Linked DNA regions of Homo sapiens: region 2 is linked to region 1. The links come from fine-mapping of genetic effects on gene expression. Tissue or cell type: naive CD8 T cells. Region 1 holds a variant in brackets; the other region holds the start of a gene. All regions are shown on one strand. Distances are from middle to middle.

What was found. PIP is the estimated chance that this variant, and not a neighbour inherited with it, causes the effect.
Region 2: it holds the start of NPLOC4, and the variant in region 1 is fine-mapped to the expression of NPLOC4 in naive CD8 T cells (Schmiedel 2018, PIP 0.95).

The regions. Positions count from the first base shown.
Region 1 is chr17:81,656,375-81,664,469 of GRCh38, forward strand. It overlaps PDE6G (phosphodiesterase 6G), which reads right to left and starts at 168. Exons shown (of 4, transcript NM_002602.4): 1 at 119-168. RefSeq lists an enhancer at 7,107-7,741. The variant A/G (reference allele first, on the strand shown) is at 4,520.
Region 2 is chr17:81,632,081-81,640,157 of GRCh38, forward strand. NPLOC4 (NPL4 homolog, ubiquitin recognition factor) reads right to left here and starts at 5,032. Exons shown (of 17, transcript NM_017921.4): 1 at 4,836-5,032. The coding sequence starts at 4,850. TSPAN10 (tetraspanin 10) reads left to right here and starts at 5,116. Exons shown (of 4, transcript NM_001290212.2): 1 at 5,116-5,326. RefSeq lists a silencer at 4,762-4,971.

The sequences.
Region 1 (8,095 bases):
CAGCCACGGTGGTAAAAGCCTGTCAGCTCCCTCTGCCCCTTGGGTGATGAGCAGACCCCCACTGACTCACTGGGGGAAGTGGCTGCCAGGAAAGACAGCGGGGTTGGCCACTACTCACCAAGTGCAGGGCGGGTCTCAGGGGGCTGTGCTGTGAGTGCTGGGCCTCCCTCCGCAGGGTGCCAGCCCCGGCCTTTATCTCGCTGCTTCATGAGCTGATTAGGCGTCTCAGTGCCACCCTAATGAGATTGTTGGGCCCCGAGGGGGGGCACAACCACCAAGGTTCAGGGGATGGAGAGGAGGGGCTCAGGTGCTGTCAAGGGCTCCAAGGAAGGACACCCAGCAGATGGGGCCGGGACAGGGAGAGAAGTGTGACCCTGAACAGCCAGGCTCCTGCAGCTGCCCATCTTCCAGATGGAAGCAACCACAGTGTCTGCTGTCTTGGGCCTCCCTACTGCCTTTCCTGACCCTGCCTGATCTCTGAAGGGCCCACCTTCATGGTCCCCAAAACCCTCTGCAGCCTGGCCCTCACCCGCTGCTGTGGCCTCACATCTCACCCCTCCCACCCCAGGGCCTTTGCACCTGCTGCTCCTGAAACCAAACAAGGACCCCCCCCCGCCCTTAGGGGCCTGTGGGTCTTCCCAAGCACAGAAGCAAGGACAATGTTGAGTTCCTTCAAGGGCAAGCCAGGCCCCCAGCCAGCCCAGAGAAGGAAATGAGCAGCCGATCCACAGGAAGGTCACAAGAAGGTCACAGGAGCTTAGAACAACAGATGGAAGCCAGAGTCCCGAGAGTCTCCACAGAAGCAAACCATGCCATCTTAGCAGGTGCTCCTCAGTTGTTTTCCAGAAACAGGGACTCCCACCAAAGGGGCGTGCTGGCACACAGACCTCACATGAGCGGGAGCTGAGGACTGGCCTCTGACCACCCTTCTCTTACCTAAATTTCTTCCTGAGGGGCCTGGAGGAGGCTATGCCCATCCTGAGGGGCCTGGAGGAGGCCATGCCCACAACCCAGAGCTAACATTCTTTCCTGCGGATCCCAAAGTTTTAGACAAAGATTCGCTTCTGCACCAAATCAGAAAACCTTTGAATCCACCTATGACCCGTGGTCCCTGGCTTCAAGATCTCCTTGCTATTTATGGCAAAACCAGTGTACAACCTCCATGTACTGATTTATGACTTGCCTGTGACCTCTGCCTCTGCACCTTTAAAAACCCATAACTCAGGCCTGGTGTGGTGGCTCATGCCTGTAATCCCAGCACTTTGGGAGGCTGAGGCAGGTGGATCACAAGGTCAGGAGATCGAGACCATCCTTGCTAACATGGTGAAACCCCGACTCTACTAAAAATACAAAAAAATTAGCCGGGCGTGGTGGCATGTACCTGTAATCCCAGCTACTTGGGAGGCTGAGGCAGGAGAATGGCGTGAACCCGGGAGGCGGAGCTTGCAGTGAGCCGAGATCGCGCCACCGCACTAGAGCCTGGGCGACAGAGCGAGATTCTGTTTCAAATGAATAAATAAATAAATAAATAAATAAATAAAAACCCATAACTCGGCCGGGAGCAGTGGCTCTCAAACAGCGCTTTGGGAGGCTGAGGCAGGAGGATCACTTGAGGCCAGGAGTTCAAGACCAGCCTGGACAACATAGTGAGACCCCCCCATCTCTACAAAAAATAGAAAAAATTAGCTAGGTGCAGTGGCTCACTTCTTATTTTATTATTTCATTTTTGAGACTGAGTCTCGCTCTGTTGCCCAGGCTGGAGTGCAGTGGCCTGATCTCGGCTCACTGCAACCTCTGCCTCCTGAGTTCAAGTGATTCTCCTGCCTCGGCCTCCTGAGTAGCTGGGATTACAGGCTCCCACCACCACGCCCAGCTAATTTTTAATATTTTTAGTAGAGACAGGGTTTCACCATGTTAGCCAGGATGGTCTCAATCTCCTGACCTCGTGATCTGCCCACTTTGGCCTCCCGAAGTGCTGGGATTACAGGTGTGAGCCACCGTGCCTGGCCACAGTGGCTCACTTCTATAGACCCAGCTACTTGGGAGGCTGAGGCAGGAGGATCCCTTGAGCCTAGGAGCTCGAGGCTGCAGTGAGCCATGGTCAAACCACTCCAGCCTGGGGGACAGAGAGAGACCCTATCTCTGAAGAAATATGAAAATTTTGAAAAATTAAAAATAAAACCTGGACGGGCATGGTGGCTCACGCCTGTAATCTCAGCACTTTGGGAGGCCGAGGCAGGTGGATTACTTGAGATCAGGAGTTCAAGACCAGCCTGGCCAACATGGTGAAACCCTGTCTCTACTAAAAATACAAAAATTAGCTGGGCGTGGTGGCATGCACCTGTAGTCCCAGTTACTCAGGAGGCTGAGGCAGGAGAATCGCTTGAACCCAGGAGGTGGAGGTTGCAGTGAGCTGAGATTGCACCACTGCACTCCAGCCTGGGCAACAGTGAGACTCTGTCTCAAAAAATAATAATAAAAATATAAATAGTAAAATAAAATAAAATGTATGAGTACTCCTTTTTTGGTATCATGTATCACAGACAATATACAAAGACAATCACATGAAAATACATAAAGCTCCAAATAGACCTAAACAAAGACCCTATAGCCTTGATTGTAAAACTCTAGCCATGAGACTGGCAAAAATCACTAGTCCAGAAAGGACGGCTGGATTCAAGTTATGCTGCAATAAATGGAACAAGTCAAAAACCTCTTGTCCCACATGGCTCAATCCCTCACTCAGCCCCAGAGGAAACAAGATTGCAATCCATATCTTTTTTTTTTTTTTTTTTTTTTGAGAGACAGGATCTGGCTCTGTCACCTAGGCTGGAATGCAGAAGTGAAATATCGGTGGCTGCAGGAATTCAAGGCTGCAGAGAGCTATTATTGTACCATTGCACTTTAACCTGGGTGACAGAGCGAGACCTCAACTCTGAAATAGTAAAATAGGCCAGGCATGGTGGCTCATCCCTGTACTTTTGGAGGACGAGGTGGCTGGACCACCTGAGGTCAGGAGTTTGAGACCGGCCTGGGCAATATAGTGAAACCCCATCTCTACTAAAACTAAAAAAATTAGTGGGGCGTGGTGGCGGGCGCCTGTAGTCCCAGCTGCCAGGGAGGCTGCGGCAGGAGAATCATTTAAACCCGGGAGGCGGAGGTTGCAGTGAGCTGAGATGGCGCCACTGCACTCCAACCTGGGCGACAGAGGAAGACTTCATCTCAAAAATAAATAAATAATAAAAAAGAAATTAAACGGTGATGTGGAACACTCTTTAAATTGTCGTTCACCACATTTTCATATCTTCACAATAATGCAAAACACAGTCACTTGCAGAACCGGTTCTGATGACTTAAATACCAGGTACAATTTTAGCCCTCTACGTAATTGCTTGGAAGTTACTTATGTTTACATGAAATGAAACTATTAGGCCGGGCACATTGGCTCACGTCTGTAATCCCAGAACTTTGGGAGGCCAAGGTGGGCGGATCACCTGAGGTCAGGAGTTGGAGACCAGCCTGACCAACATGGAGAAGACCTGTCTCTACAAAAATACAAAATTAGCCGGGCGTGGTGGTGCATGCTTGTAATCCCAGCTACTCAGGAGGCTGAGGCAGGAGAATCGATTGAACCCAGCAGGCAGAGGTTGCAGTGAGCCAAGATCGTGCCATTGCACTTCAGCCTGGGCAACAAGAGCGAAACTTCATCTCAAAAAAAGAAAAGAAAAAAAGAAAAGAAACAAAATGAGACTATTAGGCTGGGCACGGTGGCTCACACCTGTAATCCAGCACTTTGGGAGGCTGAGGCAGGTGGATCAGCTGAGGCCAGGTGTTCGACACCAGCTTGGCCAACATGGCGAAACCCTGTCTCTACTAAAAATACAAAAAATTAGCCAGGCGTGGTGGCAGGTGCCTTAATCCTAGCTACTGGGGAGGCTGAGGCAGGAGAATTTTTTGAACTCGGTAAGTGGAGGTTGCAGTGAGCAGAGATTGTGCCATTGCTCTCTAGCCTGGGCGACAGAGACTCTGTCTCAAAACAAAAAAATGAAGCTATTAATACTTTTCTACAGCAGTAACTACACACAGGAAGACCAAGACAAGCACAAGTTAAGGAATGGAGCTTTCCCAAAGCGGCTGTGTATAAAGACTATAAACTGTTTTTTGTTTGTTTTTTGAGAACAAACAAACTCACTGCAGCCTTGACCTCCTCAGGCTCAAGCAATCCTGCCACATCAGCCTCCTGAGTAGCTGGGACTACAGGTGCTCACCACCACACCCGGCTAATTTTTGTATTTTTTGTAAAGATAGAGTCTCACTATGTTGCCCAGGGTGGTCTCAAACTCCTAGACTCAAGTGATCCGCCCGTCTCAGACTCCCACAGTGCTAGGATTACAGGCGTGAGCTGCCGTGCCCGGCCGGACATACGTAGTTTTTTGCCATGGCTTTTCTTGTGTTCTCTATCTACAGGCTAAGCAGATTCTGTGTGCTGCCCTGGGGTCTTTAATTACTTCAAGTGCTC[A/G]TGTTGAACTATGAATATGATTGTGTGTGTGATTGTTTTGTTTTTAGAGACAGGGGTCTCTGCCACCCAGGCTGGAGTGTAGTGAGGCAATCATGACTTACTTCCGTCTTGACTTCCTGGCCCAAGTGATCCTCCTGCCTCAGCCTCCCAAGTAGGTGGGATTACAGGCACACACCACCATGCCCAGCTAAGTTTTTAAAAATTGTTTTGTAGGCTGGGCATGGTAGCTCATACCTGTAATCACAGCACTTTGGAGGCCAAGGCAGGAGCCCAGGAGTTTACGACCAACTTGGGCAACGTAGGAAGACCCCCATCTCCACATACAGACACAGACAAAAAACAATGAACCGGGCATGGTGGCACTTGCCTGTAGTCCCAGCTACTTGGTAGGCTAAGATGGGAAGATCACTTCAGCCTTGGCGGTTGAGGCTGCAGTGAGCTATGCCTGATGGTGGCAGGAGGCAGTCGAATGCCTAGGCAGATACGGGCAGGTCCCCAGTGAAACCCCACCTTCAAGCCAAAGACAAAAAGCCTGAAAGCCAGCCAGGCACAGTGGCTCATGCCTGTAATCCCAGCACTTTGGAAGGCAGAGGTGGGTGGATCACCTGAGGTCAGGAGTTCGGGACCAGCCTGGCCAATATGGTGAAACCCCGTCTCTACTAAAAATACGAAAATTAGCCAGGCATGCCGGGTGCAGTGGCTCACGCCTGTAATCCCAGCACTTTGGGAGGCTGAGGCGGGTGAATCACAAGGTCAGGAGTTCAAGACCAACCCTGGCCAAGATGGTGAAAGCCCGTTGCTACTGAAACTACAAAAATTAGCCATGCGTGGTGGTGGGTGCCTGTAATCCCAGCTACTTGGGAGACTGAGGCAGGAGAATCGCTTGAACCTGGGCGGCAGAGGTTGCAGTGAGCCCGAGATTGCGCCACTGCACTCCAGCCTGCGACAGAGTGAGACTCTGTCTCAAAAAAAAAAAAAAAAAAAAAAATCAGCCGGGCATGGTGGCAGGTGCCTGTAATCCTAGGTACTCGGGAGGTTGAGGCAGGAGAATCACTTAATCCCGGGAGGCAGAGGTTGCAGTGAGCCAAGATCGCACCACTACACTCCAACCTGGGTGACAGGGCGAGACTCTGTCTCAAAAAAAAGAAAATCTTTAAATCTACCTATGACCTGGAAGCCCCCTCCCTTCAAGTTGTCCCTCCTTTCCTGACCAAACCAATGTACATATGATAGGTATTGATTGATGTATTATGTCTCCCTAAAAAGTATAAAAGCAACATGTGTCCACGTTGGGCACATGTTGCCAGGACCTCCTGAGGCTGTCACAGGCATGTCGTCAACCTTCGCAAAATAACCTTTCCAAACTTATTGACCACTAAAGAACTCATCCCTGTAACCAAAACCTGCCTGTTCCCCAAAAAGTATTGAAATAAAAAATAAATAAATTGGCCAGGCATGGTGGCTCACACCTGTAATCCTAGCACTTCAGGAGGCTGAGGTGGGCAGATGGCTTGAGGTCAGGAGTTGGAGACCTGCCTGACCAACATGGCAAAACCACGTCTCTACTAAAAATATAAAAATTAGCCAGACGCTGTGGGGCACGCCTGTAGTCCCAGCTACTTGGGAGACTGAGGCAGGAGAATCGCTTGAACCCGCGAGGTGGAGGTTGTGGTGAGCCGAGATCGCGCCACTGCACTGCAGCCTGGGCCACAGAGCAAAACTTCATCTCAAATAAATCAGTAAGTAGATTCATTGAGGCCTGTCTCAGATACTTTTGGTTTATAGCTCTCACTAACTAAACAACTCATGAAAACTAAGCAGTTGGCCGGGCACAGTGGCTCATGCCTGCAATCCCAGCACTTTACAGGGCCGAGGCAAGTGGATTACCTGAGCCTAGGAGTTCAAGACCAGCTGGGTGATATGGCGAAACCCCGTCTCTAGTAAAAATACAAAAAATTAGCTGGATGTGGTGGCACGCGCCTGTAGTCCCAGCTACTTGTGTGGCTGAGGCAGGAGAATGGCTTTGAACCCAGGAGGCGGAGGCTACAGAACTAAGCAGTCCGCGGACTTGCTTTGGGGATCCTGGGTACCAAAAATATGGACCTGGGTCTTTGGGCGACTTGGTGGGGAGTGGCATCCCACGAGCACAGGATGAGGAATCTTACTTCGGGAATTCTTGCTGAGAAAAGTGCGTCGGCAAGGCCGCCCAGCAGAGAGGAATTCATTCACCGGCTCAGGTTGTCTTAGATAATAGGGTAGCTGTAGATTACATCTTAGGTGAGCAGGGAGGACCACATAAGGTTGCAAATCCCACATCCTGTACTTACACACATGAATCTGCAAAGATTAAAAACCCATGTAGGTGACATTAGAGAACAGGCCACTTGGTTATGGCAGGTTTCCCTGACTGCCACTGAGAACTGTTTTCTTTCCTTGTTTTCTTAGATTTCTTATGGAATAATCCACATTTTCAGGATTGCTAAACTTAGGCATGTCAGCCTTGCTAATTTTTTTTTTTTTTTAGGCGGAGTCTCGCTCTGTCACCCAGGCTGGAGTGCAGTGGCGTGATCTCAGCTCACTGCAAGCTCCGCCTCTCGGCTTCACGCCATTCTTCTGCCTCAGCCTCCTGAGTAGCTGGGACTACAGGCGCCTGCCACCACGCCCAGCTAATTTTTGTATTTTTAGTAGAGACAGGGTTTCACCATGTTAGCCAGGATGGTCTCAATCTCCTGACCTCATGATCAGCCCGCCTTGGCCTCCCAAAGTGCTGGCTTTACAGGCGTGAGCCACCGCGCCTGGCCGGTTTTTTTTTTTTTTCTTTTTGAGATAGAGTCTTGCTCTGTCACCCAGGCTGCAGTGTAGTGGCATAATCTCAGCTGACTGCAACCTCTGCCTCCCAGGTTCAAGCAATTCTGCCTCAGCCTCTCGAGTATCTGGGACTACAGTTGTGTGCCACCATGCCCCACTAACTTTAGTATTTTTTTTTTTGAGATGGAGTCTTGCTTGCTGTCGCCCAGACTGGAGTGCAGTGGTGCCATCTCAGCTCACCGCAACCTCCACCTCTAGGTTCCAGCAATTCTCCTGCCTCAGCCTCCTGAGTAGGTGGGATTATAGGCACCCGCCACCGTGCCCAGCTAATTACTGTAATTTCAGTAGAGAAGGGGTTTCCCCACGTTTGGCCAGGCTGGTCTCAAACTCCTGATCTCAGGTGATCCACCCACCTAGGCCTCCCAAAATGCTGGGATTACAGGCGTGAGTCACCACGCCTGGCCACGTCCTGCTGCTCTTACCAACTCCCCTGGGAGCTGCGGCTGAAGGAGCTGGAAGGACTGGTTCCAGGTAGTGCTTGGGCCACTGAGGGCTGATCTGCAGCCCCTGCCAGGCTGGTGGAAGGGCACCCGAGGACCCCTGCCAGGGATTGATGGCAGCTGGACAGATGGGCACTTCCAGGCTGCCTGTGGGCTTCTGTGCCTGCCAAAGGCTTTGCCACAGTGACTCAATGAGATCAGATGGCCTTCCCTCTGCTGCACGCTGAGAGCAACCAGAGCAGGCCTTTGCCAGGACTTGGGGGAAGGT
Region 2 (8,077 bases), 24 kb before region 1:
TTCTCCTGTCTCAGCCTCCTGAGCAGCTGGGATTACAGGCGTGCACCACCAAGCCCAGCTAATTTTTGTATTTTTAGTAGAGACGGGGTTTCAACATGTTAGTCAATCTGGTCTTAAACGCCTACCTCAGGTGATCCACCTGCCTCAGCCTCCTAAAGTGCTGGGATTATAGGCATGAGCCACCAACCCTGGCCTAGCTGATTTTTTATAGTGAAACATTTCAATTCCCTTATTTCCTTTTTTATTTCTTTTTTTTTTTTCAGCTCTTGTTGCCCAGGCTGGAGTGCAATGGCGTGATCTCGGCTCACTGCAACCTCTGCCTCCCCGGTTCAAGTGATTCTCCTGTCTCAGCCTCCTGAGTATCTGGGATTACAAGTGCCTGCCACCACGCCTGGCTAATTTTTAGTATTTTTAGTAGAGATGGGATTTCACCACGTTGGCCAGGCTGGTCTCGAACTCCTGACCTCAAGTTATCCACCCACCTGGGCCTCCCAAAGTGCTGGGATTACAGGTGTGCACCACCACACCCGGCCTCCCTTATTTCCTTTTTCATAAATTCTATAACTATTTTCTGTGAGGTTACCACGAGTGTTACATTAAACATCCTCTTCAACCATTATGCAGATGAAAACTGTCACAAGCCATTGTCTAAAAAAGATTTCCACTGATACAGGACAAAACACCATAAAGGCTCAGTCTACTGGGATTTGTCCGCTTTTAGTAAAGTAACTAAGCCTAATCTAGATTTTCCTAAAATAGGATAACCCTGTCCTGCATTTTCCCATAACTTTCACTTGGCAGAAAAGGCTCCACCCAATATGTTCTCAACTTTTAAGTCAGGAGATTGAGACCATCCTGGCTAACACGGTGAAACCCCATCTCTACTAAAAATACAAAACATTAGCCAGGCGTGGTGGAGGGCGCCTGTAGTCCCAGCTACTTGGGAGGCTGAGGTAGGAGAATGGCGTGAACCCAGGAGGCAGAGCTTGTGGTGAGCAGATCGCGCCACTGCACTCCAGCCTGGGTGACAGAGCAAGACTCCGTCTCAAAAAAAAAAAAAAAAAGAAAAGAAATACAATTCTTTATACTTCTAACGTCTAGTATACTTCATTCTAGATTCAATACCCCAGAAAAACGTTTTCACAATATATAGCATTAGGTAAATACTTCCACTTATTTGTTTCTAAAATCTGTCTGCCAACACTTAGCTATCTTAAAAAGGAAAGCTCTGTTCTAATGAAGGGGAACATGTGAATGTTCCTTCAAACGATGACTCTGGAACAAGAGCATGTTACCGCCATTCTTTACAGAGCTAAATGGTTCAGGCTGCAGAATTCTAAGGTGAAGAAGTCATCCTACTTGATCCTCTACCACAGAAGATGGGAGTCCAGGTTTCCAAGGCCAACTCCAGTATTTAACAAGAGACAAACATAATTTGTACGATGGAAAGTTCTGGCCTAGCCTCTGACACAGACTACAAAATGAAATACACAGGAAGAGACAGACCTGACAACATGAACACACAGCCTCTTGGTAACTTAAGTTTCCCTATTTATAAGAAAATAAGACTAGAACGCTTCTTGGGGAAGTTGAAGAACTGGTGAGATACAGTTAAATCCACAGAAACTCTTTTCTCCCCCCAAGACAGAGTCTTGCTCTGTCACCCAGAGTGGGAGTGCGATGGCGCGACCTCGGTTCACTGCAACCTTTGCCTGCCGAGTTCAAGCAATTCTCTTGCCTCAAGCCTCCCAAGTAGCTGGGATTATAGGCGCCCGCCACCGCGCCCAGCTAATTTTTTTTTTTTTTTTAAGAGTCTCACTCTGTCACCCAGGCTGGAGTGCAGTGGTGCGATCTCGGCTCACTGCAATCTCCGCCTCCCGGGTTCTAACTTTTCTGCCTCAGCCTCCTGAGTGGCTGGGACTACAGGTGCACGCCACCACGCCCGGTTAATTTTTTGTATTTTTTTTTTTTAGTAGACGTGGGGTTTCACCGTGTTGCCCAGGCTGGTCTCAAACTCCTGAGCTCAGGCAATCCACCTGCCTCGGCCTTCCAAAGTGCTAGGATTACAAACGTGAGCCACCACGCCCTAATTTTTGTATTTTTAGTAAAGACGTGGTTTCACCATGTCGGCCAGGCTGGTCTCAACTCCTGACCTCATTATTCACCTGCCTCGGCCTCTCAAAGTGCTGGGATTACAGGTGTGAGCCACCATGCCCAGCCCAGAAACTTTTCAAAAGATCTCTTTCTTAAATTCAAAATAACTTTTTAAATCAATTTCAAAAGAAGAGTGTTTTAATTCCTCACAATCTGAGACATTCAACGAGATCCAATGCTGTCAATGAGAGCCTAGCCTTATACACTAGTGGGAAAAAAAAAATGGCCTTGTCTGAAACACTTTTCACTTGTCAATGGTTATTTTAACTCAGTTAAAAGTACAAAGGTAGTTTGAAAGAAGGTTTCAGTGCTAATTCCTAACCTATTTCTAGGCAAAGTCACCAATGATTAACACTTTTTTTTTTTTTTTTGAGACAGTCTTGCTCTGTCGCCCAGGCTGGAGTGCAGTGGCGCAATCTGGGCTCACTGCAACCTCCACCTCCCGGGTTTGAGCGATTCCCCTCCCTCAACCTCCAGAGTAGCTGGGATAACAGGTGCATGCCACCACACCCGGCTAATTTTTTATTTTTAGTAGAGACAGGGTTTCACCATGTTGGTCAGGCCAGTCTTGAACTCCTGACCTCGTGATCCGCCCACCTCGGCCTCCCAAAGTGCTGGGATTACAGGCGTGAGCCACTGCATGGCCACATTTTATTTTTCAAAGGAGTCAAAGGTTTCTTGGCCGGGCATGGTAGCTCAGGACTGTAATCCTAGCAATTTTGGGACCCCAAGGTAGGAGGATCCCTCGAGCTCAGAGACCAGCCTGTACAACATAGTAGAGACCTCATCTCTATAAAAAAATGTTTTTAATTAAAAAGATTTAAAGGCCAGGCGCGGTGGCTTATGCCTGTAATCCCAGCATTTTGGTATGCCAAGGCGGGCGGATCACGAGGTCAGAAGTTCGAGATCAACCTGGCCAACACGGTGAAACCCCATCACCACTAAAAATAAAAAAGACATCAGCCATGCGTGTTGGCGAGCACCTGCAACCCCAGCTACTCGGCTGAGGCAGGAGAATTTCTTGAACCCGAGAGGCGGAGGTTGCAGTAAGCAGAGATCGCACCACTGAACTCCAGCCTGGGCGACAGAGTGAGACTCCATCTCAAAAAAATAAAATAAGGTTAAAAAAAAAAAAAAAAAAGGAGTCGACGTTTCCTAAGTTTCTCCTGGGCCATATATTCATTCCACTCATCTCCAGGTTGGGAAACATGGAGGCACCAAGAGGGCCCCTGACTGGAGAGATGATGGAACCACCAGAGAACAGCCTTGCAAATAAGTGCTAGGTTCTCCTGGAGACCCATTTGTTTGTGTGTGTGAGACAGTCTCATTCTGTCGCCCAGGGTGGAGTCCAGTGACGCCACCTAGGCTCACTATGTTGTCCAGGCTGGTCTTGAACTCCTGACCTCAGGTGATCCACCCACCTGGGCTTCCCAAAGTGCTGGGATTACAGGTGTGAGTCACCGCGCCGGGCCTGGAGACCTATTCTAGACAACACCTGGCAAAACTGCAGAGACTGTCACAATGCTACAGTATGAACATTACTCTTCACCCAATACTGCTAAGCTTCCCCCAGAAATCCCAAATCTTCCTTAATATTAACCAAAATGCTCCTGTCCAATGGTCAGTTAGTTTTTTTCCCATCACATTTACTTTTGGGAAGAAACTTCTCACAACTTAACGAGGGACTGGTTTTCTGATTTGTCACTGATATTTTTTACGTTAAGGAGGAGTGTGTGACAATTTTTTTTTTTTTTTTGAGACGCAGTCTCGCTCTATAGCCCAGGCTGGAGTGCCATGGAGGGATCTCAGCTCACTGTAACCTCCACCTCCCGCGTTCAAGCAATTCTCCTGCCTCAGCCTCCCAAGTATCTGGGATTACAGTGCGCCATGACGCCCGGCTAATTTTTTGTATTTTTAGTAGAGACAAGATTTTGCCATGTTGGCCAGGATGGTCTCGAACTCCTGACCCCAGGTGATCCACCCGCCTCGGCCTCCCAAAGTGCTGACATCACAGGCGTGAGCCACTGCGCCGGGCCGACAATTTCAATTTCAGGTAAAAAGTGAAATCAACATCATTTACAACATTCCTTTTAAAGAGGAATTGTCAAGTTGTCCTTCCAAGTAAGGAGCAAAGCCGGCAAGTTACTGTGTTTTCATTTTCCCAGGTCTTCTGGTGGGGAGGGAGCTCTGTAACGTCCCCGTCTGCAGAGCTGCTCTCCTTAGTGACTCATGACAAGGCACTTGCTGGGAAGCGGGAGAGCAGGAGGAGAGAATCAGAGGGAGATTAGGATAAGAGGTGTCCCTGGCTCTGAGAGGGGCAGGACTGGCTGGGAGTCCCTGGAATTAGACCAGGAAGTCTCCTGGAGCCGGGAAACGGGTGGGGAAGGAGGGCGGTTTCTCTTCGCCACAGTCCATTCTCCCTGCTTAGAAAGGCTCGGCCTTTCCCTGCCCAGGGCGGGGAACCGGGGTCGTAAGTCCCCTGGGGAGGGACACGGACGGGAAGCAGCCGAGGGGGGTGAAAGTCCCCGAGAGGGGCCCAGCCACTACAGAGAAAGCCCTGGCGAGAGAAGAGAAAGGGGCCGAGTCGCGGCGCCGGCAGGCCCGCCTCCCCCACAGGCCGAGGCCGGCAAATCTGCTGCCTCATCCCGGCGTCCCCGCTCCCGCCCGGCCGCCGCACTCACGATGCTCTCGGCCATGGCGGCTGCTCCTGCCTCCGGGCTCGAGCCCCGGGCCGCCGCCGCCTGCCGCCCCAAGGGCCTCGCAGACCCGGCCGCGGCCTCAGCCCCGGCCCCGGCCTCCCTACGCCGCCGCCACCGCCGCTCCAGCTTCGCCCGCCCGGCTCCGCCAGCCGCCGACGTCCCGGTGCCTCGCTCAATACGCTCCCCTCGGGCGCGAGGCCGGGAAACCAGGTTCCGGCCCCACCAACGGCTCGACGCATGCGCAGGGCGGCGCCGCTGACCCGCCCCCGCCATCCCTGCAACTGGAGGAGGGGATTTTGGAAAGTTGCGTCTGAGATTACTTCTGCTCGTCCTCGGAAACCCAAGCGGCACAGGAAAGTCCAAAAAGGAAGCAAAGACGAGCATCCGAAGTCTCACCCAAAAATAACTACTGCTGCGTATTATAGCGTATTATAATTGGGGAAACAGCATTCCAAACTTCTCTCCATGCACAGGTAAGTAGAGAAACAATTTCAGGAAGGCAGGATCACACCTTCATGTTTTTTTTTTTAAGTATTTTTTAAATTTAACATAAGAAAAACAAACGAGTTTAAACTGCATTTCAGGCCGGGCGCGGTGGCTCATACCTGTAATCCCAGCATTTTGGGAAGCCAAGGTGGACGGATCACCTGAGGTCAAAAGTTCGAGACCAGCCTGGCCAAAATGGTGAAACCCCGTCTCTACTCAAAATACAAAATTAGGCCATACGCGGTGGCTCACGCCTGTAATCCCAGCACTTTGGGAGGCCGAGGCAGGTGGATCACCTGAGGTCAGGAGTTCAAGACCAGCCTGACCAACGTGGTGAAACCCCGTCTCTACTAAAAATACAAAAATTAACTGGGCGTGGTGGCGGGCACCTGTAATCCCAGCTACTCGGGAGTCTGAGGCCGGAGAATCTCTTGAAGCGAAGAGGCGGAGGTTAGAATGAACTGAGTTGGTGCCACTGCACTCCAGTCTGGGCGACAGAGTGAGACTTCATCTCAAAAAAAAAAAAAAAAGACGTCACTTCACAGATTCTAAGGATTTTTGGAGTTGGATACCAGGAAACCGGAAGACTAAATGTATACATATTTCACAACATCACAATTACTGTGACAGTTTTTTTAAACTATGTTAAATTACATTAATTGATTAAATTATGTTAGTAATTGTATTAGTTTGCTCAGGGTGCCACTGTAACTACCCAACATATTGTCCCTGCCCACTGCCTAGACTTTATCAAGACAGGGGAATTGCAATAAAGAGTTTAATTCACACAGAGCCAGCTTGTACAGGTTACTGAGGTTTTATTACTACTCAAAAAAAATTAGTGTCCTTGAGAATTCAGGGATCAGAGTTTTTTGTTTTTTGTTTTTTTTTGTTTTTGAGTCCGAATCTCACTCTGTCACCCACACTGGAGTGCAGTGGCGCGATCTCGGCTCACTGCAACCTTCACCTCCTGGGTTCCAGTGATTCTCCTGCCTCAGCCTCCCGGGTAGCTGGGACTACAGGCGCACACTACCATGCCTGGCTAATTTTGTATTTTTCGTAGAGACGGAGTTTCTCCATGTTGGTCAGGCTGGTCTTGAACTCCTGACCTCAGGTGATCCGCCCACCTGGGCCTCCCCAAAGTGCTGGGACTATAGACGTGAGCCACCGTGCCCGGCTGGGGATCCGCGGTTTTAAGGATAATTTGGTGGGTATGGGGTCAGAAAGTAGGGAGTGTTGATTGGTTGGGTCAGAGGTGAAATGATAGGGAGTCAAAACTGTCCTCTTGTGCTGAGTCGGTTCCTGGGTGGGGGCCACAAGATATGAGCCAGTTTATCAATCTGGGTGGTGCCAGCTGATCCATGGAGTGCAGAGTCTGCAAAATATCTCAAGCGCTGATCTGTTTTTTAATAGTGATGTTATCCTGAGAAGCAATTTGGGAGGTTTAGAATCTTGTAGCCTCCAGCTACATGACTCCTAAACCATAATTTCTAATCTTATGGCTAATTTGTTAGTCCTGAAAAGGCAGTCTTGTCCCCAGGTAGGAAGGGAGTTTGTTTTGCAAAGGGCTGTTACCATCTTTGTTTCAAAGCTAAACTATAAACTAAGCGCCTCCCGAAGTTATTTCAGCCTACACCCAGGAATGAACAAGGACAGCTTGGAGGTTAGAAGCAAGATGGGTTCAGTTAAGTCCGATCTCTTTAACTGTAATAATTATCTCAGTTATAAGAAAATATAACATAACAAAATCTCTCACAGACTGGGTGGTGGTTTGGAATTACTTTTCTTTTTTTTTTTTTTTTTTTTTGAGTCGGATCTCCCTCTGTCGCCCAGGTTGGAGTGCAATGGCGCGATCCCAGCTCACTGCAACCTCCGCCTCGTGGGTTCAAGCGATTCTCCTGCCTCAGCCTCCTGAGTAGCTGAGATTACAAGCGTGCGCTACCACGCCCGGCTAATTTTTATATCTTTAGTAGAGACAGGGTTTCACCATGTTGGTAAGGCTGGTCTCGATCTCCTGACCTCGTGATCCACCCGCCTCAGCCTCCCAAAGTGCTGGGATTATAGGCATGAGCCACCATGCCCGGCCTGGAATTACTTCCTAACAGTCCTGGAAGCTAGAATCCCAGATCAAGGTGTCAGTAGACGTGGTTTCTCCTTTGTTTTCTTCTTTTTTTTTTCTTTTAAGGCTGGGGTCTTGGCCGGGCGCGGTGGCTCACGCCTGTCATCCCAGCGCGGTGGCTCACGCCTGTCATCCCAGCACGGTGGCTCATGCCTGTCATCCCAGCGCGGTGGCTCACGCCTGTCATCCCAGCACTTTGAGAGGCCGAGGCAGGTGGATCACGAAGTCAGGAGATCGAGACCATCCTGGCTAATATGGTGAAACCCTGTCTCTATTAAAAATAAAAAAAAAATTAGCCGGGCGTGGTGGCGGGTGCCTGTAGTCCCAGCTACTCGGGAGGCTGAGGCAGGAGAATGGCGTGAACCCGGGAGGCAGAGCTTGCAGTGAGCCGAGATCACGCCACTGCGCTCCAGCCTGGGCGACAGAGCAAGACTCCGTCTCAAAAAAAAAAAAAAAAGAAAAGACTGGGGTCTCACTCCCATCGCCGAGGCTGGAGTGCAGTGGCACAATCGTGGCTCACTGTAGCCTCGACTTCCCAGGCTCAGGTGATACTCCCACCTCAGCCTCCTCAGTAGCTGGGACCACAAGTGCTCACAATCACACCTGGCTAACTTTTTGT